Regions from separate parts of the Homo sapiens genome. Here region 2 is linked to region 1. Evidence: fine-mapped expression QTL. A gene starts in region 1. The other region holds a variant in brackets. All regions are shown on one strand. Distances are between the middles of the regions. Region 1 holds the start of TOR1AIP2 (torsin 1A interacting protein 2). Region 2 overlaps TOR1AIP2 (torsin 1A interacting protein 2).

What was found. PIP is the estimated chance that this variant, and not a neighbour inherited with it, causes the effect.
Region 2: its variant is fine-mapped to the expression of TOR1AIP2 in lung (TOPMed, PIP above 0.99).

Annotation. Positions count from the first base shown.
Region 1 is chr1:179,872,207-179,884,491 of GRCh38, forward strand. It overlaps TOR1AIP2 (torsin 1A interacting protein 2), which reads right to left and starts at 5,597. Exons shown (of 7, transcript NM_001199260.2): 1 at 5,487-5,597; 2 at 5,033-5,167. TOR1AIP1 (torsin 1A interacting protein 1) reads left to right here and starts at 10,079. Exons shown (of 10, transcript NM_015602.4): 1 at 10,079-10,771. The coding sequence starts at 10,297. It overlaps LOC139427322, which reads left to right and starts at 10,110. Exons shown (of 1, transcript NM_001436163.1): 1 at 10,110-10,187. The coding sequence starts at 10,110. The coding sequence ends at 10,187. RefSeq lists enhancers at 5,572-5,931, 9,445-9,983, 9,896-10,005, 9,984-10,521, 10,026-10,785 and 2 more.
Region 2 is chr1:179,837,511-179,849,795 of GRCh38, forward strand. It overlaps TOR1AIP2 (torsin 1A interacting protein 2), which reads right to left. Exons shown (of 7, transcript NM_001199260.2): 6 at 10,025-10,126; 7 at 2,466-9,318. The coding sequence ends at 8,561. Among named protein-coding and RNA genes, the nearest start is that of LINC02818, 7.1 kb to the left of the region's middle. The variant C/T (reference allele first, on the strand shown) is at 5,785.

The sequences.
Region 1 (12,285 bases):
GAACAACTGGTTTGGAAACCTACTGGTACATTTCTATCTATGTTGCTCTAATGCTCCAAAAGCCCATGGTCCAAATTCTGTCTACAATTTCACTTCAAAACACCAGCAGCCAAACCTTTAAGGCTAATACACAACTTTCAACAGTCAGATCTGGTGCCAAGCTTAGGTATTTCTATAACTTGTGCTAGCTATTTATTGTCTGTCTAAAACTAAATTTCTAAGTCTTGCCCACTCCTCTGTACCATATCCACTGTCATAATATCCCAGCATTATTATTTTCACAATTTTTCGTTTCTCTGTATTTTCACTAACTGGTGACTTATTCTAGATTTTTGAAAGAAGTTTGAAAAAGTACTAGCCTCGGAACAAAAAGCACTCTACTTCCTTAGGGAATTGTTTTTTACACAGGAATTGAATGCCTGGCGCAGATCAAATTCTACAGATATTTTCTGAGTGCAGAAAGCCTTCCTTTCCTACTTACCCTTTTTCATACTCCCTCCCAACTCCTTTGACTTGTATCTCTAGTTTCGGTTGACCACGTAGAGGTATTAAGCTATGCACGAAGGATCTAAGAGTTTGCTAAGATTTCTGACAGTGGGTGGCACAACTGACTGCCAGGTTTAGTTCAACTTCCCTAATCACTTTTAGTATCTACTTCAAGTCAACATATTTTTATTAAACTTTTTATTTTGAACTAATTTTAGACTTACAGAAAAGTTGCAAAAATAGCACACAGTTCCATTATATCCTTCATCTAGCATCTTACATAATTAAAGCATAGTTATCGAAAACAAGAAATCAACATTGGCACAATTCAATTAACTAGAGGCCATATTCAGATTTCACGATTTCTTTTAGTTGTTATTTTTCCTTAGTGTCTAGTCTATGACAGTTCCTCAGTCTTTACCTGTCATTTGTGACCCTTTCTTGTCTTTGTGACCTTGACACTTTTGAAGAATACTGGTCAGTTATTTTGGGTTCGGTGTTTTTTGTTTTTAAAAATAGACACGTGGTCTTGCTATGTTGCCTAGGCTGGTCTCGAACTCCTGGGCTCAAGCGATCCTCTTGCCTTGGCTTCCCAAAATGCTGGGATTACAGACATGAGCCTCTGCACCTGACCTGGCCAGTTATTTTGTAGAATGTTCCTCAGTTTAGAGTTTTACAATATTTTATCATGATTAGAAAGATAAAAAGATTATGCATTTTTGGCAAGAATAACAAACGTCACAGAAATGCCGCTGTGTCCTTCTCACTGCCTCTTTGGGTTCATGATGTCCTTGTCTCATTACTGGTGATGTTAACCTTGATCACTTTGTTAACATAGTACCTCCACTGTCGGATTACTATTTTTTCTTTGTAGTTAATAATTATCCTGGGAGAGATACTTTGAGACTATGTAAATATTCTGATTTTCCTCTAACTGGATTTTGTCTGCAACAACTACTATGGTACTGTTTCCCTAATGGTGGTTTTGTATTTCCTTCTTTCCTTCTATGTTTATTAAATGGAATTCTTCTGTTAGAGTTGTCCCTTCTCCCCTACTTATTTATTCACTCAGCAATATCAGTATGAACTCATTTTATTTTATGGGTTAAAGTCCAATACTATCATTATTCATTTTATTGCTCAAATTGTTCCAACCTGGATACCAGGAACTCCTTCAAGTTGGCTCTTGGGTCCTTTCGACAAGGTCCCTAACTTTTTGTAGCATTTCCTTACTTTCAAGCACCATAAGATTTTTCAGGCTCATCTTGTATTTTCTCTGCTCCCGCACTAAATCAGCCACTTCTCTAAAAAGTCCTAGTTCCTTTAAAAACCAAGATCTGAATGCTCAGTGCTACTGGGGTATAACTATCAAGTCAACAATATGGACAACAAGTGTTTGTTTCCTTACTATATTAAACTCACTAGCTGGGAATCACTAGCATTACCTGGGAGCTTGCTAAAAGTACAAATTCAGGCCCCAACCTAGACCCACTAGACCAGAATCTCTGAGAGCCTCCTACAGGAATTTATGTTTTAACAGATTTGCCAGATGACTCTGGTGTTCACTATAAAGTAGCTGGGTGTGGCAGTGTGTGCCTGCAGTCTCAGTTATTTGGGAGACTGAGGTGGGAGGATCGCTTGAGCTCAGGAGTTCAAGTTTGCAGTAAGCCATGATAGTGCCACTATACTCCAGCCTGGGCAACACAGCAAGTCCTTGTCTCAAAAGAAAAAGAAAAGAAAAAATAGTTATAAAGTACCTTTATACAGTACTTCAAAATATACTGTAGTCAGGTATGGTGGCTCATGCCTATAATCCCAGCCTTTTAGGAGGTTCAGGCAGGAGAGGACTGCTTGAGCCCAACGGTTCAGAGACCAGCCTAGGCAACATATCGAGACCTTGTTCATACAAAAAATACAAAAATTAGTCAGGTATGGTGGTGTGTGCCTGTAGTCTCAGCTACTTGGAAGGCTGAGGTAGGAGGATCACTTGAGACTGGGAGGTCAAGGATGCAGTGAGCCGTGATTGTGCCACTGCACTCCAGCCTGGATAAGAGAGAGAGATCCTATCTCAAAAAAGAAACAAACAAAAAACTGTAAATACTGTTACTTTTATACAAAGAAAGTTATAAGTCAGCCTCCAGGATCAAGTCCAATCTACAAATATGACCTAACATCCATAAAGCAAATCTACAAATATAGAACCCAATATAGCACTATCCTCTAAGGTCAGACTGCCTAGACCTGAATGACTGCTCCAGCTTCTGACTTGGTGTTTCTCTCTCTCTCTCTATGCCCTTGGTTTTCTTTGTTTTTTGTTTTGTTTTTGAGATGGAGTCTCGCTCTGTCGCCCAGGCTGGAGTGCAATGGCGCGTACTCAGCTCACTGTAACCTCCGCCTCCCAGGTTCAAATGATTCTCCTGCCTCAAGCCTCCCGAGAAGCTGGGATTACAGGTGCCCGCCACCACGCCCAGCTAATTTCTTTGTATTTTTAGTAGGGACAGGGTTTCACCATGTTGGCCAGGTTGGTCTCAAACTCCTGACCTCAAGTGATCCACCCACCTTGGCCTCCCAAAGTGCTGGGACTATAGGCGTGAGCCACTGCACCCAGCCCCTGGCTAATTTTTTCCTTGGTTTTCTTAATTACAAAATGGAATAATAGTACTTAGATGAAAGAGGCAGTGTGAAGATCAAATGAGATAATGTGCAATACTGGCAACCACAGGGGCACAAAAGAAGTCCTCAAAAACCGTAAATAATTATTATTTGAACTATTAAAGGCAAAACCAGACAGCTTCATTTATATAATTAAAACCCCAGAAGACACCAATGTTTCAAAATTTGACTTTTTCCAAAAATGTCATTACATTTACATGATAGATACTCATGGTCAAGGGCTGAAGGAAAATCTCTAAAAATCAAACAATTTGATTTGTTGAGGTAGTGGAGTTATAGGTGAATTTTCTTCCCAGAAATTTCGATTACCAAAATTATGTGCACAGTTCATACCAGAGCCATGGCACCAAAAAAAAAAAAATCATGTGCCAGCTCCTTTAAATATTAGTAAAGAGGAAAACAGCCCACACAGTAACAAAATAGGAATTCAAACCCAGCTATGACTCCAGTCTATGCTCATTACCAATGTTAGGGACACGCTTCCTTATTCCCAAGTGCTTGATTTCTGTGCAAAATTTATGGTAATATATGATCGCCCTATGAATTCCTTCTTGTAGGACACAGTTTAATCCAGTAGTTCATATGATGTAGAAATATTAATGAAATTTTAACACAATCAAAATTCTAAATGGTAAATAAAACAGCCAATTCTTCATTCTTTAAATTTTTTTGGAAGTTGTCGAATCTCCAAGTTTATGGGCCTTCACAGTTGACTTAGTGAACAACCTCAAAGTGATAAAGCAGACAAGGCTTTTTGAAGCAAACATTCCTTCAGGAAATTCAAGTGGCACTTCAAAGAAGTGTGGACTTTCCTGGAATAGAATTTTGACTTCTGTGTTCCATGGAAATGAATGGAATACAGAAATTACTTCTTAGGCAAAAATAAGTTATATACAAGATACAATACATTATTAAAACACCCAATAATCCTCAAATAATTAGCTACATTCTGAAGTTAATTTATTTATAAATTATTGAAGCTCTCAAGCTAGCATTACCTCTACATTAGGAAAGAAACTAGATAAAATAGTTCTTAAATGAGTCACGCAAGGTTGCGTAACAAACCAGCAGAAAAACAGGTAATCAAGTTGTGGACTGCACGTTCAGCATAATAAACATTACTGAAGACAGGCACTCAGTTTTCATAACAAATGTTAGTTTTTCAAACTATTCTAATCCACACAAAGTCTTCCAAAAACATCTGTAGTTACTCTACCATGAAGTTCCTTTTTTTATTAAATGTTTCCACTGGCCTTTTATATCCTCATCTTGTGCTCAAAAAAAAAAGCTCAAAAAACATGGATAACTGCCACAGCTTAAAACAAAGAAAGGATCTCTCATACAGATCCAAAATAAAATGTGTTAAAACCTAAAGACAGGTAAAACAAAGCCAGTATGTTTAATCTATGTAACTCATTTCTGGATCTGTGTAACAGTATAAAGTCTGATAATTAAGCATTACTCATAAAGTAGAGAGTACTATGAAATTTGTTAAAAGAAGGAAAAGGCACAAACTTTTTCATCAGGTATTAAATACAATTGGGAGAATGGTACATATATAATATGTAAGCAAAATGGTAGGAGGTCTTACTAAAACTTCAACTTTGCCCTTTTTAGCACCAATTTTTTTTTTTTTTAAGTATTATCTTTTCAGGATTAAGATTATGAATGTCGAGAACCTAGGCATGTTGGGAATGGAGTAATCGCCGCCTACACTAGTAGGCAAATTTCCCACTCACATTTCGAACCCTAAAATAATTCGGCTTCTCACCTTAAAGTCTAAACCCAAAAATTTACTCACATCTTAACCCATTTAATATTTATAAGATTCAGTTTCTTTTTATCCCAAAACAAAAATATACCCCCAACCTACCTCGTTTACTGTTTGAGTGAGGCCAGGCGTGGTGGCTCACGCCTGTAATCCCAGCACTTTGGGAGGCTGAGGTGGGAGAATCGCTTGAAGCCAGGAGTTCGAGACCAACCTGGGCAATACAGTGAGACCCTGTCGCTATAAAAATAAAAAATAAAGTAATTAGTAGGGCATGGTGGTGCGGGCCTGTAGTTCCAGCTACTTGGGAGGCTGAGGCGGGAGGATCCCTTGAGCCCAGAAGTATGAGGCTGTGGTGAGCTATGATCACGCCACTGTACTCTAGCCTCGGTGACAGGGCAAGTACCTGTCTCAAAAACAATAAAAATAAAAATACCATTTGTGCGGTACGAAGGTGGGGGTGGGGAGGGACCGTTTCTGAAAGTCCTTTTCAAAAATTCAAGATATCAGTTTCAATACTAAAACATGGAAAAGCTGCATAGTCATTTTGTTTACTTACAAATTCTGGCGAAGTTTTAAATCGTAAAACTGTTAGTATCAGGAGAGCCCTTCGAGTATTCTCTCCGCTCCACACCGCTCGGCTGCACCCAGCGGCCGCCGCGGCCCGAATGTCGTCCAGGGTCCCCGCCCATATGACAAACACTTTCCGCCGGAAGGCGCCCGTGGAATCCTGGGACTAGTAGTCTCCGTGCCCTGCCTTCTGCCTTCTCCATCCTTCACCCTCTACTGCCAGGTCGTCTGACCCAGCGACAGGCGCGGTAAATGCGCGACCAAACCGCAGAGGTCCCATGCAATCTCATGCTGACAGGATTACAGGCATCTCTGTAAGACGTCGACCACCCTGACCTGAAATTCATAGACTGAAGAAACTCATAGGACCAACACAGTGAGCAGCAGTACCAAATGATAATGGCAAGCACCATGTCCTGGAACACACCCTCTGTGCCATTAAGAGGAGCATGTAATCCAATGAGTTGCCTAATCTAAACCTCAGTTTGCTCGTGTGTCAAATGGGGACAACGTTACTTACCTCATAAGTTTGTTATTAGTAGATTAGATGACGTATGCAGCATTTCTGTTAAATGACAGTAGTGACAAAAAATAGCTGTTTTGATCTACTAATTTTATAAATGTGAAAATTAAGAGATGGCGAGCAATTTACCCAAGAACATACAATTTGTTGGGGGAAAAATGAAGTAAGTCTAAAATTCCTGTTCTTGACCTACAGCAATTCAGGACAAATCTAACCAAATTTCAAGAAGAAATCTATTCATGTAAAACTCCCTTCCCCTTTCCTCTTTTTTTTCCCATAACAGTCCTGACCAACACACTATTTTACTTATTTTGATTTTTGCCCGACTCCTCCCATAGAATATAATCTCCAAGAAGGCAGGAAACATTTTTTGTCTTTTAGTCTATTTTGTTCACTGCTGTATCCCCAGCACAGAGAACAGGGACTGCCTACTACACAGTAGCTCAAGTATTTATTGAATTAATAATTCCTCATTTAATGTGATTTTTGGTGCCTTCACTTCTCAATCACCCTCTCTTGGCAGAAGTGACAGGATTTGGTAACACTCTTGGATGGTGTTTAATAATTAACTGCAAGTCCTAATTCAACAAAAAGAATACTATATTCCATTCACTTTATTGTGTTTAATTAATTTCAGTATAACATTTCCAGGAATTTTCATTTGTATTGTCATTAAAATATTTTTCTATCATTTGTAAGACTGGGGAATAAATGGAGCCAGCTACTATGTCTTTAATTAACTTCCTCCTGTTTAATATTTTAATCATCTTTTCCTTATTAAAATTGTTTGCCTACTTCATTTGTACTACTAAGTCACAACGGATAGATTTATCTCTTTAAATAAATGAACTTCTGCTTACCCTAAAGCAAAAAGTTCCTGTACAAAAAATTTATTGTTCTAAAATGTTTCATTTAAAATAATTATTTTGGCCAGGCGTGGTGGCTCACACCTGTAATCCCAGCACTTTGGAAGGCCAAGGCGGATGGATCACCTGAGGTCAGGAGTTCAAGACCAGCCTTGCCAACATGGCAAAATCCATGTCTACTAAAAATACAAAAATTAGCTGGGCATGGTGGCAGGCACCTGTAATCCCAGCTACTCGGGAGGCTGAGGCAGGAGGATCACTTGAACCTGGAGTTGGGGGAGGCTGCAGTAAGCCGAGATTGCACCACTGCACTCCAGCCTAGGCGAAAGAGCGAGACTCCGTCTCTAAATAAATAAATTAATTAAAAATGAAATAAAATAACTGATTTAGGAACCCAGTCTCAAGAGCACAGGATTTCCAGACCTAGCCCTAATAGTTAAGTGTGTGAATTAATGCCATTTAATCTGAATTGTAATTTTTCGTGTTTCTGTCGTTCCCAATAAATGACAAATTCCCTAAAGATAGTCTTCCTCATTGCTGGCACACGTTTGATAAGTAAATGAATTATTAAGTGTATTCTTTGTTTTAATCATTTCTTTTCTTACCGGTCTTCTTTTTTGGGTCACTGAATTCCTCCAGATTTCTCAAATTCCCAAAGTAACTTTAATATCCAGAGCTGAGGCATCCTTTTTTAGTGGCCCAGCGCATCCCTTATAATATTGGCTATGACTCTACTGTCACTGTAATGTCACCTCTTTTCAGCCACTCTTATAGTCTGGATAATAGCTACAGCAGAGTATCTAGTTTCATAACAGTTTAGCTTTGCCTCAGAGCTAGTGATGAAAGTTTCGTATCTGTAAGGTTTCTAGGTGAAGGAGGCAGTCACAGTAGAGGTAGGTTTCCTTATGCTTACAACCTAGATGAGAGGGAAAATCCGATGCATATATATATGTGTGTGTGTGTGTGTGTGTGTGTGTGTGTGTTAGCATTAAAGTTACCATACCTCTAATTTTACAGTAAGTGTCTCATTAATTTAGTTGAAAGGCCATTCCTAAGCCTTTACAAGCAGTTTTAATTACAAAATATGCATATTCTGATTATTCAATAATATGCAGAACCTCTCCTCTGATTGTTCAATATGTAGAATCTCTTGTCTCTTTTTTAATTTGTCCCTCAAACCTAAGTTTTACAAGCCTGTATCCAAGTTTTATAAGCTAGTATCCCAGTTTCTACATAGTCATCTGTCTTGGTAAAATGTTTCAAGGAGACTTTAATGTTCATAATATGAACTCAATATATTACTATAAAATTTATATTTAATAATTAAATCTATTAAGGAACTTATACTATTGTGTTACTAATGAGTAATGTAATAGCCACTTTAAAGAGAAAGCCCTGCTTAAAACATAAATAAAAGCCACGTATTACCATATCAATACTTTTGAGCATTTTGTTGGAAGAGTAAATCTAGCTAATTTCCGAAATATACCATCTAATCCAGACTGACAAGGAAGAGTATCCTTTTCATTTTTCCTTAAAAGACAAGAAGAAAGAAGAAAGAGAGACAGAAAAGAAAGAAAGAAGTCTCTCTTTTGTTACTGCAGTTTTTAAAAGCTATATTGTACATAAAGCTACAGTAAACTAAGCTCCTAACAGGCCAAACCTTATCTCACTCTAAAACTGTAATTCCTCCTGCCTGTGGCCAAATTTATGGACAATATTAGTAAAAACATAGTACACAGTCGGGCAGGGTGGCTCACGCCTGTAATCCCAGCACTTTGGGAGGCCGAGAGGCGGATCACGAGGTCAGGAGATCGAGACCATCCTGGCTAACACGGTGAAACCCTGTCTCTACTAAAAATACAAAAAAATTAGCCGGGCGTGGCGGCATGCGCCTGTAGTCCCAGCTGCTGGGGAGGCTGAAGCAGGAGAATGGCGTGAATCCGGGAGGCAGAGGTTGCAGTGAGCCGAGATCGCGCCACTGGACTCCAGCCTGGGTGACAGAGCAAGACTCCGTCTCAAAAAAAATAAAATAAAAATAAAAATAAAATAAAAACATAGTACACATTACGACTTAAGTAGTTGAAATTTGTGCCAAGTTTGAGCAACAAATGAGTTGCTCAAAAACATTTTAAGGTGATTACTTGGAAGAATAAACAAACACCTTCAAACTTTTCAGAATCGCTCATTGTAACTGGTATCCAAATTACAATTTTTTAAATCTATTCACTCCAATCATACAAAGCCCTACAAGCAGTTGTATATTTGAAGGCAATTTAAGCTTTCTTTCAATAATTATTCAGACTTTACACGAACTTAATCGACCTTCTCTGAATGTGTCTAAATTTGGTTAGGTATTTGCAGATTAGCCACATCTGTAAACATTTGTATAAGGAGGTGAAACAAATAGATTTTACCATGCTTTCTTATTCCATAAAGTCCATAAAGCATTCTAAATCAAATGTAGAGTATCACGTCACATCCAGAATAAAAGTAAAAATAATGGATCACAACTTAAAATTACAGTGCTGTCTTTAATTAAAAAACTTGTTCATTTCTCACTGTGCACAATGTAGCACTAACATGGTCTTCCGAACACTGCTGCTTGGTATAAAACCGAGAAATATTAAAGACCAGGAATAAGGTTATGTGTCCTATGGGTACATTTCGGAAAAGAAAATACATCCAACGAGTATGACTCTAGATAGGATTTTGTACACCCTCAACAAGTGACAAAATTCAAAACTAGGTAACCGCCCTCATAAGGTACTTGAAACTAAAATTTTTGCCACGAAAACATGGCATGTGCAAAAGTTCTCTCTCTGGCCATCACTCCTGCTAAGGACACTGGGAAGGACATGGTCAACGTAGCAGTCGATCAAAAAGATTCCAGGGAAACTGCGCAACAGCCTGGGGCCGAGAAGCGAAACTTGGGTCTTCTCCACCCTCGTCGCACTCCTTTTCCCCGAGACTTGGTACTGGGAGATAGGACGGGAGTCTCCTACACGCAGTCAACACTTGCCACGAGCGGCTAGACTTAGGACAGGCAAGTTGCCCTGCCATCCTTCTATCGCCCCCACCCCTCCTTTACTTAAGGGCGATGGCAGAGACGTCCTCCTCCCCCTTCTCCTCCTCTTTGGTGCCTCCAGCCAGGAGGCGGGAGCGATCCACAGCAGCTGACCCAGCTCAGGCACTGCCTCTCTCACAGCCCTCAAGACACACCATGGGCCCAGAGGCAGGTTTGCTACACAGCAGCGACGACGCAGGCGGCGGCCCCAGCGACTCGCAACTGCCTCCCTGACCACAGCGGCCACCGCCCAACACCCCCGAGAAGCCATCGCCACCACCGGCAGGAGAACCTAGGGTCCATAAAGCCATCTTCGCGATCGACTAAAGCTACGTCAACAACTATGGCGGGCGACGGGCGGCGGGCAGAGGCGGTGCGGGAAGGATGGGGTGTGTACGTCACCCCCAGGGCCCCCATCCGAGAGGGAAGGGGCCGGCTCGCCCCTCAAAATGGCGGCAGCAGCGATGCGCCTGCGTACAGAACTCCTCCGTCGCGCCAGGGCCGGCGGGAAGTGAGGTTCTCGGACGAGCCGCCAGAAGTGTACGGCGACTTCGAGCCCCTGGTGGCCAAAGAAAGGTCCCCGGTGGGAAAACGAACCCGGCTAGAAGAGTTCCGGTCCGATTCTGCGAAAGAGGAAGTGAGAGAAAGCGCGTACTACCTTCGGTCTAGGCAGCGGAGGCAGCCGCGACCCCAGGAAACCGAGGAAATGAAGACGCGAAGGACTACCCGCCTTCAGCAGCAGCACTCAGAGCAGCCTCCGCTACAGCCGTCTCCTGTTATGACCAGGAGAGGGCTGCGGGACTCTCATTCCTCTGAAGGTGAGGACCGCGGAGGTAACAGTCCCAGCCGCGAGCCAGGGAACGCGCGGGGGCGGGCGCGCGCCTCGGTGGAGCTCATGCCCGCCTGGGTACTAAGTACTGGGATTGGCTAAAGGGTATTCCTCAGCCCCCTCTGGACTTGTGCCGCCGTGCAAGGGCCACCCTGACCCGCAGCGGGGAAGGAAGCGCCGACCGGAGGAGTGGAAAGATGGTCGTGTGGAGCGACCCGGGCAGGGCTGGGGCGCTCTGCCCAACATCGGGCATCAATTTAGGGGAGTCAGAGCTGCCTTTTTCTGCAGGCCTTCACGAGGGGACAGCGAATTACTGCAGGGTCGGTTTCATTTCGGTTCCCTCTACCCTGCGGATGTTTCTACAGAAACCACTTCCATTTCCTTCTTTAACGCTCGCGGGCCAGAGTCCCCAGCTGAGGATCTAACCTTTCAGTCTTTTTCCCTCCTCACCCAGGTGGGCAGAGAGGAAGGAGAAATTTTGTGAGTGGGCATTTCGAGGGATTGCTGAGTTTAGTGAATTGATTTGAGACCTCACCCAATACTTTCACCGAAATGGGGTAACTCATTTTTCCTGAACTGATGTTCCCCAGTGTTTGATAACTTGAGCTGATTGCTGTTTCTCCAGTGTGGTGGTCCCTGCCAAAAATCTGCCACTTTGGTGGCCGTCACTGTAACCTCAAGTAGTCTGGCAAATCAGACTGACAAAGTAACCTGAAAAACAAGACTATTAATTAGAGTTTTCGTCTAAATGGACAAAAGGGATGCTGACAAAGTGAGTGTATAGTGTTAGGTAAGTCATAGGTGAATCAGTTTCCTTAATCTATCCTCTCCCACCCTGCCCCCCCCATTTTAGGACCTAACACTGAGTCACAGATGAAGTTTCATGTTAATCCCATGTAAGGCACCTGTGAGGTAAAAATCAGCGGACCTGAGTCACAATGGGATGACATAGTTTGTGGTAGACTATTGATAGGCGGAGGAGTGGGTTTTCAGCTTAGAGCACGGTGATAGGCTGCAAGTTTACCTGCTGACTCGTGAAGGTACTGACAGATTTGAAGACTTGATTTTGGAAACTTTATGTTAAAGTTATGTCAGTTATTTTTGGGTGTAGCAACTGAAGACAGTTTAGCCCATATATGTGTTAGTTTTATCTCTTTTAAGATTACAAAGTTTTTGCAGACAAGGAGCCTATAATATATTTGATAGTAATTTAAGTACTTGGTTTAATTCAGTATTTTTCAGTACCTGGAAGAATGCTTTGTACATGGTAGGCAAAAAATATGTTACATTGTATTGAGTTCCACAGAGCCTAGTGCAGTTATACAGGCTAACTTTTTTTTAACAAGTAAAGAATTTACCCCTATTTTATTAAATCTTTAAGGATCTAAACATTTTTCACTCTTCTGCTTTCTTCCACATCATTTGTGACTCTCTACCCCATCTTTTTGATTTTCTGAAGTAATATATTTTTGTAAAACAACAATGGCAAATATTATTATATTC
Region 2 (12,285 bases), 35 kb before region 1:
ATGTTACTGAATTAATGGTTTATCTTAAACATTGATTTGTATACTTAAGAATTAGTGATCCTAGAAAGTGTCAGATATAGGTCAAAAAGACAAAGTGTCTTTTTTTTTTTCCTGAGACGGAGTCTTGCTTTGTTGCCCAGGCTGGGGTTCAGTGGCGCCATCTCGGCTCACTGCAACCTCCATCTCCTGGGTTGAAGCAATTCTCCTGCCTCAGCCTCCAGAGTAGCTGGGATTACAGGCACCCACCACCACGGCTGGCTTTTTGTATTTTCAGTAGAGGCAGGGGTTTCACCATGTTGGCCAGGCTGGTCTTGAACTCCTGACCTCATGCTCAGCCCACATCAGCCTCCCAAAGTGCTGGGATTACAGGCATGAGCCACTGCGCCTGGCCTTTTTTTTAAGACAGGGTCTCACTCGGTCACCCAGGCTGGAGTGCAGTGGTGCAATCATGGCTCACTGCAGCCTCCACCTCCCCAGGGTCAGGTGATCCTCCCACCTCAGCCTTCTGAGTAGCTGGGACTTACAGGCATGTGCCACCACATTCAGCGAATTTTTGCATTTGTTTTAGAGACAGGGATTTACCATGCTGGCCAGGCTGGTGTCAAACTCCTGGGCTCAAAGGATCCACAAACCTCAGCCTCCCAAAGTGCTGGGATTACTGGCGTGAGCCACCACGCCTGGCTAGTGTCTCATTTTTAGTGTGTGTATGGGGGCCTTCTGTGAGCCCTAAAGTCATGTGGGCAGATTCCACAGTAATGAGTGCCCTAAACATATACATAATACGATCTGCCTACTCATTTCCTTTTCTTAAAGTAGATAATACCTTGGACCAATAGCTAAGATCTTTTCTGTTTAGCTTGATGGAGCTGCTTCTGCACCAAACATTCTATGACTCGAATTGCAACTTCAGACTTAAAATCATTTTTATTGTATCCTGTTTAAAATGACAATTCCTACAGCAACTAAATAATTCATAGCCACTCACTCCCTTATTAATCAGTATTGAGGCCTGTTCTAGTGTACGGTAGAACACTAGTATGTAATATCCTCTAGTGGTGAGTTTATGCATTAAGAAAATCTCGTTGCTGCTAATCTACTGTTGACGTTTGTGGAATGAGTATTAGGAAATTCTGTGTTCTTTGCCTTCAGGCTCATCTTATCGCTTGACTTTAGCTCTTTTCAGTGAAAGCTCATATGTTAAGATATGGTAACTCCCAAAGTTCCTATTTTTCTAAACTGCAAAAACAAGTCTTTCAGATTTTCAAAATTCAATTCAGATTTGTTAGAAAATGTTTCTATAAAATGTGTTAATAAGACCTTTGGTTTTAGTTGGGTATGGATGGGGGTGGGCCGAGCAGGAAGCTGGGAGAAGGTGGGTGAGGGGCTGAGATGGGTATTCAGGTGCTTCTGCTCTGTAATTCTGGTTTGGCAACATCTTAAGGCAGAAATTCTGAACACACCCCCACCTCCCCCACTCCCAACACATAAGGTAAGGGATATCCACACTTAAAAAACACATTCGGCCGGGCGCGGTGGCTCACGCCTGTAATCCCAGCACTTTGGGAGGCCGAGGTGGGTGGATCACAAGGTCAGGAAATCGAGACCATCCTGGCTAATACGGTGAAACCCCGTCTCTACTAAAAATACAAAAAAATTAGCTGGGCGTGGTGGCGGGCACCTGTAGTCCCAGCTGCTCGGGAGGCTGAGGCAGGAGAATGGCATGAACCCGGGAGGTGGAGGTTGCAGTGAGCCGAGATCGCGCCACTGCACTCCAGCCTGGGCGACAGAGCAAGACTCCGTCTCGAAAAAAAAAAAAAAAAAACCACATTCACAGGCTGGGTGTGGTGGTTCACGCCTGTAATCCCAGCACTTTGGGAGGCCGAGGCAGGCAGATCACCTGAGCTCAGGGGTTTGAGACCAGCCTGGACAACATGATGAAACCCTTTCTCTACTAAAAATAGAAAAATTTAGCCCAGCACTGTGGCCTGTGCCTATAGTCCCAGCTACTTGGGAGGCTGAGACAGGAGAATTGCTTGAGCCTGGGAGGCGGAGGTTGCAGCGAGGGGAGATTGCACCACTGCACTCCAGCCTGGGCAACAGAGCAAGACTTTGTCTCAAAACACACACACACACACTCACAACAGCACACCCTGGGATAGCAGCAATTCCCAGGGATCTACTTACAACCCCAATGTTTCTCCCATACTCAGGAAAGCTTCGTTAAGTAGGAATAGCACTCGAAGAATGCTACCCAAGAGCTGCAACAGATTCTAGGCAGGGTCTGCCCTATACCATTTCACTGATGGCCACAAAATGCCACCTGACAACCCTCACAGGATTCTCTAGCTCCTCAGCTTACTGCCATATGAGGGCAGTTTCCTTTCCCACCATTAATCACCACATGCCCATTTCTATAAACCTGCTATTTTGGGAAATTTAATCAAGAATCAGTCCGCTGAAAAAAATTCAGATTTATTCTTTATTCTGGTAATGGCCAACTAATCTGAATAAGGCACATCATCAGCATCTATAAGAAACAAATACAAAAGCAATCCCTGTTATACAGAAAGGGAGTGCAGAGAAGTGGGACGTTAGTATTGGCAAAGCACACATATTTTTTGTTAAGCACAAATAAGCAAAATGCAATTGAGTTTGAAAGTCAGTGTGCTGTTTCTTTTATGACAGGAAAGGCAAATAGATTTAAATTTCCTGTGCTCTCTGATGAACCAGGAGCAACTGCCTGGAGCTTTGTGTTGATGCGTCCTCAGGCCTAGAAGGAACACAGAGAGTAGGGCTGTGACTGCCGGGGGCTTGGCCAACTCTGCCCCATACAATGTGACTCAGCCTGTTGCTTCCCAAGTCTAAAATGTTCTTTTTGGTTCATGTAACTGCGCTTAGCCAAAGGCAAATTTAGTTTATAAGCCTCAGTGAGGAAAAGCAGGAGACCATTTGCCAAAATAAGAACCAATTTATGGGCTTTTCAAGACATCACAGCAAGCGGGCACAGATAATGCAGATAATACTGGAAGGAAAGGTACTGAAGACTAAGGTATTTACCTTTTTGCAGATTAGGGGATACTGATTATGTTCTCAGGCCATTTGGATTGGCCTATAGAGATACAGAAGTTATAGCACAGTTTACCAAACATCGCATGTTCTCACTCATAGGTGGGAATTGAACAAAGAAAACACTTGGACACAGGGCAGGGAACATCACACACTGGGGCCTGTCAGGGGGTGGGGGGCTGGGGGAGGGATAGCATTAGGAGAAATACCTAATGTAGATGACGGGTTGATGGGTGCAGCAAACCACCATGGCACGTGTATACCTATGTTAACAAACCTGCATGTTCTCCACATGTATCCCAGAACTTAAACTATAATAATAATAATAATAATAATAATAAAGAAGTTATAGCACAGTTTATTAGCTAGAAATGAATTTTAACAGCCCTGTCTCAGTCTGAATGAGGCAAATTTAGGCCCACATCATTAGGTATTTCACAACTTAACACCTAAAATTTAACATAAATTTACAAAAATAAGGCTTATTTTAAAGTCATCTGGAGAAACTGTTTTACAGGTATCTTAACTTTATTTAGCTCTCTGTAGAATTAACATCTTTGCAAATATATTATTCAACCAAGCATTTGCCATAAAGATAAGCATCAACTTTCCCATTGGACAAGTGATAGTGTTCAAGCTACTTGACTTGTGAAAAACAAAAAACCACCATGACTTCTCAACAAATACATTTTAAAATGAAATATGCTCAGGCTGATAAACAAACAAGATATTAAAATGGAGACTGACATTGAACTACATAGTCAACTTGAAAAACACAAGAAGACAATGCTCCTATAAAATGATATATTATTGGCTTTACAAAGACATACTGGTTTATGTTTACAACTATGTTTTATTTTCAAATGGTAAAGGAAAGGCTTCATGTTGCTATTTGAAAGTACTTCTCAACTAGCCGGGCATGGTGGCATAATTCCTGAAGTAGGAGGATCATCCCCTTGAGGCCAGGAGGTCCAGGCTGCAGTGAGCTGTGATTGTGCCACTGCACCATAGCTTGGGTGACAGAGTGAGACCCTGTCTTTAAAACAAAAAGAAAGTACTTCTCTGCAAGTAAATTTTATGGATATAATCTTTATTCTGATTAAATAAATGATTACCCTAATCAGCTATTATTTATTATTTTCTATTTAACATTCATTTTTGAAGTGCCAGAGACCTGCCTATGTCGCATAAAGTTTGGTCAGATATATGCAAATGCAGTGTTGGTGAAGATCATCTGAATAATGATCACTTTCACATGCCATATTAGTTATATTTTAGTATCACTGCTCATTGTGCTTCCTCTCTTTAATAAAGTATAAATCAAGCAATTAAAAGCTGTGTAGGCCAGTCGCGGTGGCTCACGCCTGTAATCCCAGCACTTTGGGAGGCCGAGGCGGGTGGATCACTTGAGGTGAGGAGTTCGAGACCAGCCTGGTCAACGTGGGGAAACCCCGTCTCTACCAAAAATACAAAAATTAGCTGGGCGTGATGGCACGTGCCTGTAATCCAGCTACTTGGCAGGCTGAGGCAGGAGAATCGCTTGAACCTGGGAGGCAGTGGTTGCAGTGAGCCGAGATATCGCACCATTGCACCCCAGCCTGGATAACAAGAGTGAAACTCTGTCTCAAAAAAAAAAAAAGGCTGTTAAAGGGTCAAAACCATCTCAGCGGCTAGCACTATTTAGTGGAGTCACTAGCTAAGAGAATGGTGGGTTACCAGCATGCTGAGCCTTATTAACCACCATACACTTGGGGGCTTCCAAATGAAATGTATTGAAATGTCTTTATTGATTGCTTTTTAAAATAGAAATATGAAACAAATTAGCATTACTATTTTAGTGATATGAACACCTTTAGTGATATGAACTTGTCCGCCAACTCCTGGAAACTAACCAGAAAACCTAAAATTTACCCTAAGGGAAGAAAAACCTCAAGTCCAAAGACAGTTTCTGATTCTACCAATTGGTTCTACAATTCTGGGATTACTCAAGAAGTAATTTATATTAATATACAGTGTAATGAAAGTTGTTCTGTAAGAGTAACTAAATGGCAACGTTTAGGTACCACATACAATATTGTATGCCCACAAATCATTTTTCTAAGTCAAATAAGCAAATTATCTTTGACAATAAAAGACGAATTACTAGACACACAAAAGAAAATCTGAAACCTTAAAAAATGTCAATAGGCCGGGTGCGGTGGCTCACGCCTGTAATCCCAGCACTTTGGGAGGCCAAAGCGGGCGGATCACGAGGTCAGGAGATCGAGACCATCCTGGCTAACACGGTGAAACCCTGTCTCTACTAAAAATATTTTTTTAAAAATTAGCCAGGTGTCGGGGCGGGCACCTGTAGTCCCAGCTACTTGGAAGGCCGAGGCAGGAGAATGGCATGAACCCAGGAGGCGGAGCTTGCAGTGAGCCAAGATTGCACCACTGCACTCCAGCCTGGGCAACAGAGCAAGACTCCATCTCAAAAAAAAAAAAAAAAAAAAAAGTATAGAACAAATAGAAATTAACCTAATACATTAGATAATAGATTTGAATTATCTGTACATTTATAAAATATGGTCTTATGTTTAAAAATAGTCATTTTAGTCATGAGAAGACCCAGAGCTAATATACTGCTTCTTTTAAAAATGATTTTTGAGGCCAGGTGCAGTGGCTCGTGCCTATAATCCTAGCACTTTGAAAGACCAAGGCAGGCGGATCAATTGAGGC[C/T]AGGAGTTCGAGACCAACCTGGACAACATAGCAAAACCTCGTCTCTATTAAAAATACAATAATTAGCTGGGCATTGTGGTGCATGCCTGTAATCCCAGCTACTTGGGAGGCTGAGGCACAAGAATCACTTGAACCCAGGAGGTGTAGGTTACAGTGAGATGAGATTGTGCCACTGCACTGCATTCCAGCCTGGGTGACAGAGCAAGACCTTCTCTCAAAAAAAAAAAAAAAAAAAAAAGAAGTTTGGTTGGGTGCATTGGGTCACATCTGTAATCCAAACACTTTGGGACGCTGAGGTGGGAGGATCACTTGAGGCCAGGAGTTCAAGACCAGCCTAGGCAACACAGTAAGACCCTGTCTCTATACAAAATAGTGTGGTAGAGTGGTGTGGTAGTCTGCACTTGTAGTCCCGGCTACTCAGGAGGCTAAGGTGGGAGGATTGCTTGAGCCCAGGAGTTTAAAGCTACAGTGAGCTATGATCAAGCCACAGCACTGCAGCCTGGGAGTCAGAGTGAGACTCCATCTCAAAAAAAAAAAAAAAAAAAAAAGACTTTTGAAATAGCAGACAGAAAACTGACAACACCCTCAATTGATTGCACTATACATGGAAGGGAAAATGTTTTTAAAAAGGCTAAATTAAAAATTATGACTTTAGAAATTTATTTTTCTAAATTATTTTGAAGAGAAATGATGAAAAACCATATTCAACTGAATGAAGAAACAAGAATATGCGACATACTGGTTCCTTGACAGATCTGAGGTAGCACAGGTCAGCAGGCCAATATAATAGTTATACAAGGCAACACTGGTTTTGTGGATGTAACGCTAGCATCTAAGATCTAAAAAGACAGAAAAAATGTGCATATGGGATACAGATTTTCCTTCAACTTCCTCTGCTTTTATACTGGATTGACAGTGATATCACATTCACCATGCTTTAACTTTTTGTTCAGGTCTCTTCCCAAATCTCTTGGAAGCTTCCTTCGAAGTCCCAAATGCAAATTCTTCCTTCAGGTATGCCCCTACACTCAATTGAGCAATTACTCAATTGTAATCTTTTTAGGTATCAGTAAAGATCCCTGTATCTTCTTAGTGTTTCCTAAAATCTTTCCATACTTTAATCAGACTTCTTAGCTATATACATATGATCTCATATAATGGAGAGGCCAAAACCCAGTTGAAATAATCCAGGATTATGGTAATAGTCTATATAATGGAACAGACCCTTTGTTAGGTCGAGATCATTTTACTAGAGTTCTGCTTTCAGAGCTCAAATGCTAATCAACTCTATCTCCATACAAACTGTTTTCAATCTTTCTTACAATCACAGAACATGGTCCGTCAGTACTGAACATCAAAACCTCTGAGAATCTACCCACCATTTCTGCTTCCTCTCACTAAGTATAACATCTCTTAGATTTCTCTAATTTTTAACCTAATGGTACTTCTATAACTAGTTGGTCAAGAAATGAGCTGCATTACATAATGTTCCATCACTGCATAGAAATAAACTGGTAAAGTTATGCCAAATGTTCATATAAAATTTACTATTAAATTGGTTATTCAAAAATAAATTTTTAAAATAAAACAAATAAATTGGTTATTAAAATCTGTTCTGCTGAAAGAGTCTACAAACTCTTACCCTAGACAAGTATAAAATTCCATGCAGAGGGGACAGAAATGACGATTAACAGAAATGAACAAAAGCATCAGAGACATGCTAGTAAATGCTAGCTTATACATTCTGCTGTTCATGTATAGATCTTTATCCTTCATAAATAATGTATCTATACAATAAACCTGTATTTCATCTTCCTACTCATAAGATTTAATACATTCATTTTTTAAACATATTTCCTATCTTCTAAGATGTTTTTTCACTTAATCAATGGTTTTCAAACTCGAATATCAGTGAAACTCTTTGTTCCAATGAAATCTCATAGAGAACCCCAACATATAAAACAGTTAAAAGCAGAACTGCTCTGATACAAAGGGGAAGGGTGCCAGTAGACACAGTTTGAAAATCAATGCTGTAAATTGTTCAAGAAAAGCTGAAGTAAAGATATAGCCAATTGGAATTTCTTCATTTCCAATGATTATAAACAATTTCCCCACTGGTTCTCATTTTTAAGAACATTTGAGTACAGCTGCTTATACCTCAGCTGAATGAAATAAAAGCACAGTGCCTTACATGTAGTATTTAGGTAGGTACTTAATGGTTTGAATTCTTATTTCTTTTATCATACTACTCAAAACTGCAAAATTAATATAAGATATAATCCCGTAACTTTAGATTATTAAAGTAAGGTTTGAAAATATTCAACATGTGATAGAAAAATTTTCTAAAGGTTATCATTGCTTCATAATTCTAATTGCTTTAGTCCAAGTCCAAACATTATCGAAAAGGTTCTTCAGAGTCTCACTCAAGAAAAAAAAAAAATCACTCTGTAGTTACTCTAAGAAGTAAGAGTATCTTCCTGTGCAATGTTGCTATATTTTAGAATTTAAAAAAAATTCTCATATATATCATCGATATTTCAAACCTGATTTGGTCCAAAGAAAAAAAGTCAGGTTAATTTTTAGCTTTGTCAAGGCTTAGATTAGAAAGATTTTACAAGGAATAAAAAATAAAAACTTGTTTCTAAAATAAGCTCATCTTTGTTTTTCAGGCTATTTCCTCAAGCTATTTTATCAACCTCCTTCCATATAAATGGAAGGTCTTTAAACAAACTTTTTCATAAACATATACCTTCTGTAACCAACTCTGTGCTTAGCTTTAGAAAAGGCACCCCTGTTCTTCTATGCTACTCACTGGCTGGACTGGCAGTACCAGGTGTGAAATTCGGCTCCACAGCCCACTCAATTTGTCTGAGTCCATGTGGTTGAAGGAGGTGGGAGTGTCAGAGTTGGTAAACTTGGCCCAGAGTAAGTCTCTCACTTTTTCTTCCGTTTCCCTTGGGCCTACACTTGCTTCTAATGTTTCCTCCTCTAGCAGAACAGTCAGGACCAGGGCCACATCTTTAAAGGCAGCATTCTCATGATCACAATACTTATAGAAGATCAAAGTGGAGCCGGCAGGGAAGGATTCGAAGTGGTGTACCACAGCAGCCTTCTGGCCATTCTCAAACCCATAGCTCAGCTCCAGGTCAACCAACAGCTTGACCGTGTCACTGTCCTGCCAGGTCCTTCCAGCCCCATCAATCTGAATGGGAGAGACTTTCTGGGAAGAGGTGTAGGCATCTGCAACATGGTGGCTCAGGCACTTCAGGGTCTCTCTTCCCTCCCGAGCTGCTGTAAATATGATGGTGGCTGGCTCAGTGGGGTTGGAAGCATTGAGGTGCTTCTGGAGAAACTTCCGTCCTCTCTGCCACAGGAAGGAACTCTGGCCTGGAAATTTATCTTCCAATTGGCTAAACTGGGCCAAAAAGGCCTCCAAAGCTGGATTTTTGGGCACTTGCTGGGCTGGAGAGGAATAGTAGCTATTCACAGAACTTGCCACAACAGCCACAACCAGGACGACAAGAATCACAGGGCCTGTCAAAAGAATGAAAAAGGAATAGAAAATTACAGAGAACACGAGCCAGAAACAAAGCCTGTGGTAAACTGAAATGAGGCAGAGATACCAGCAGGTTTTACTAGGAGCAATAAGTTTCTTTTGCATAAATTGTTTAAACTTTCAATCCACCAGAAGTACCTTTTCTCTAATCTCTTCTCAGATTTAATTATTTGAAGATATATCTGTTAAAAGATAAAAGCTACGTGGAAGAGTTAAGTACTCGGTAAAAAATTTTTAAAAATAAAAGGTAAAAGCTGAGTCTATGTATTTGTTATTATAACTAATGATGTAATTTAGACATGAGTGATCAAGATTTTTTTTCATCTTCTCAATGCACCTACTACCTATAGCCGACCATTTTTTTAGGAGTCATAACTTTAAAGTGCACTTGAAAAATTAATATTCTCTAATTAGAAAGGCAGTTTTTGTTTCTTGTTTAGGAAAAGCCTTTCCTATTGTGAGAAATTCCATTTTGTTAAGCACAGCAAAATATCAGCCAGCACCCGTAAGGGAAAAATCCCTAAAACTCTAGTGTACTATTTTACTATGTCTCACTACCAATCATTAAATAAGTATATATAAACACAATGTTAAAACTGTTTAAATCTGCTAGTTTTCTAGGCATTTTCACTGAGGATTTCTGAAAGTGAATCAACACTGCAGTAAAACCAGGTTTGTTCTCACCATAGCTCCAAAAACCCTTTTTATTAATCTGTCTCATGGTGTCCTGTGCATTCTCTTTAATTTCTTCCAATTTTTGTGTTTGTTGTGGATGACTTCCAGCCTCTGGAGAGGAAAAGAATCAATATTATTTTTAGGCAGTACACTAATGACAGTATGTATACCTTTATATCTCTCACCAAACCAAAGAATGATTTGACTAAAAGGCTTTCTATACCTTGGCCAGGTACGGTGGCTCATGCCTGTAATCCCAGCACTTTGGGAGGCTGAAACAGGTGGCTCACTTGGGGTCAGGAGTTTGAGACCAGCATGGCCAACAAGGTGAAACCCTGTCTCTACTAAAAATACAAAAATTATCGGGCATGATGGCGGGCGCCTGTAATCCCAGCTACGTGGGAGGCTGAGGCAGGAGAATCGCTTGAACCTGGGAGGTGGAGGTTGCAGTGAGCCGACATCGTGCCACTGCACTCCAGCCTGGGGGACAGAGCAAGACTCCATCTCAGAAAAAAAAAAAAAAAAAACCAAAGTTAACATTTTTCCTGTCTTTTCTTTAAGACTATTACTTTTATTCTACTTAGAAGGATAAAATGAAATACTGTGAAATTCATTCAAGGATAATGTTGCTATATTCACAATTCCTTACTGCCTCTTATATCAAAGACAAAGACATTTAAATAGTGCGGCCAAACTTACCTAAAATGTAATTCAGCAAAATGTATAAAATCAAGAAGGGATTTAAGAAATGTTGGCTGTACACAAGATTCAACTTCACAGGGTAATTGTGCTCTAATTCCAGTGTTCGAGTTTCACATGGTTCCTCAAGACCCCGAATATAAAAATAACAGAGGCACTAAGTTCTAAGATAGGAGAGATTAGTGTACAGTTGCAAAATAGCTTACAGAAGCAAATTTGAAACTCTTAGTGAAGGAGATATACAAAGCAAGGAATATAAGGTGAAGAAAATTCACGAAATATGTAAAAATCCAGATGTAGGGAGGGCATGCCAAGCTTAAAATATGTGGGTGAAAAGAAGGGCAACAATTTTTAGCACTCTAAGCTAAATCACACTAGAATCTAAATTTGTGCTTAACCCCAGCCAGGTACTTCTATTAGCATAGATGAGTAGGATCATCTTCACTTATAAAGGATTGTTCCTATCACCCCAAAGAGTAGGTTCTTAAAATATCATATCATAGAATCTAAGAACTGAAAGGATCTATAATGGACACCTACTCCGGCCCCATTACTTAACCTATCATGAAAAAAGGTCCAGGGATATTAAAGATCTTGCCCAAGGTCACATAAAGAGATGTAGCTGGCTGGGCGCAGTGGCTCACGCCTGTAATCCCAGCACTTTGGGAGGCCGAGGCGGGCGGATCACAAGGTCAGGAGATCGAGACCATCCTGGCTAATACGGTGAAATCCCGTCTCTACTAAAAATACAAAAAAAAAAAATTAGTTGGGCACGGTGGCGGGTGCCTGTAGTCCCAGCTACTCGGGAGGCTGAGGCAGGAGAATGGCGTGAATCCGGGAGGCGGAGCTTGCAGTGAGCCGAGACAGCGCCACTGCAGTCCGGCCTGGGCAAAAGAGTGAGACTCCATCTCAAAAAAACAAAAAAAAAGAGATATAGCTAAGTTGAGATGAAAACAAAGTTTCTCATCTCTTAGAGTATAGATAACCTCATTCAACTATATTAAATTGCTTTCCATACATAAACTGCATTTTTTTTTTTAAAGACAGGGTCTCACTCTGTCAACAAGGCTGGAGTGTAGTGCTGAAATTTCGGCTCACCACAGCTTCAACCTCCTGGGCTCAAGCAATCCTCCCACCTCAGCCTCCTGAGGACTATAGGTGCATGCAGCTGTTTTTGTGTTTTCTGTAGAGATGGGTTTTTGCCATGTTGCCCAGGCTGGTCTTCCTGGCCTCAAGTGATCCACCAGCCTTGGCCTCCCAAAGTGCTAGGATCACAGGAGTGAGCCACCACCCTTGGCCTAAACTAGATTTTTTTAAACAATATTTTTTCTACTCACAGTGAACCTGCCTAACAGTGAATTTTTTTTTAAGAGATGGGATCTCACTAGATTGCCCAGGCTAGCTAGAATGCAGTGGCTATTCACAGGGGTGATCATAGCACACTGCAGGCTTGAACTCCTGGGCTCAAGCAATCCTCCCAACTCAGCTTCCCAAGTAACTGGGACTAGAGGTGTAAGTAATTGCACCTAGTTTATAACAGTGAAATTCTGACGCAGGTCATGGTCCTTACA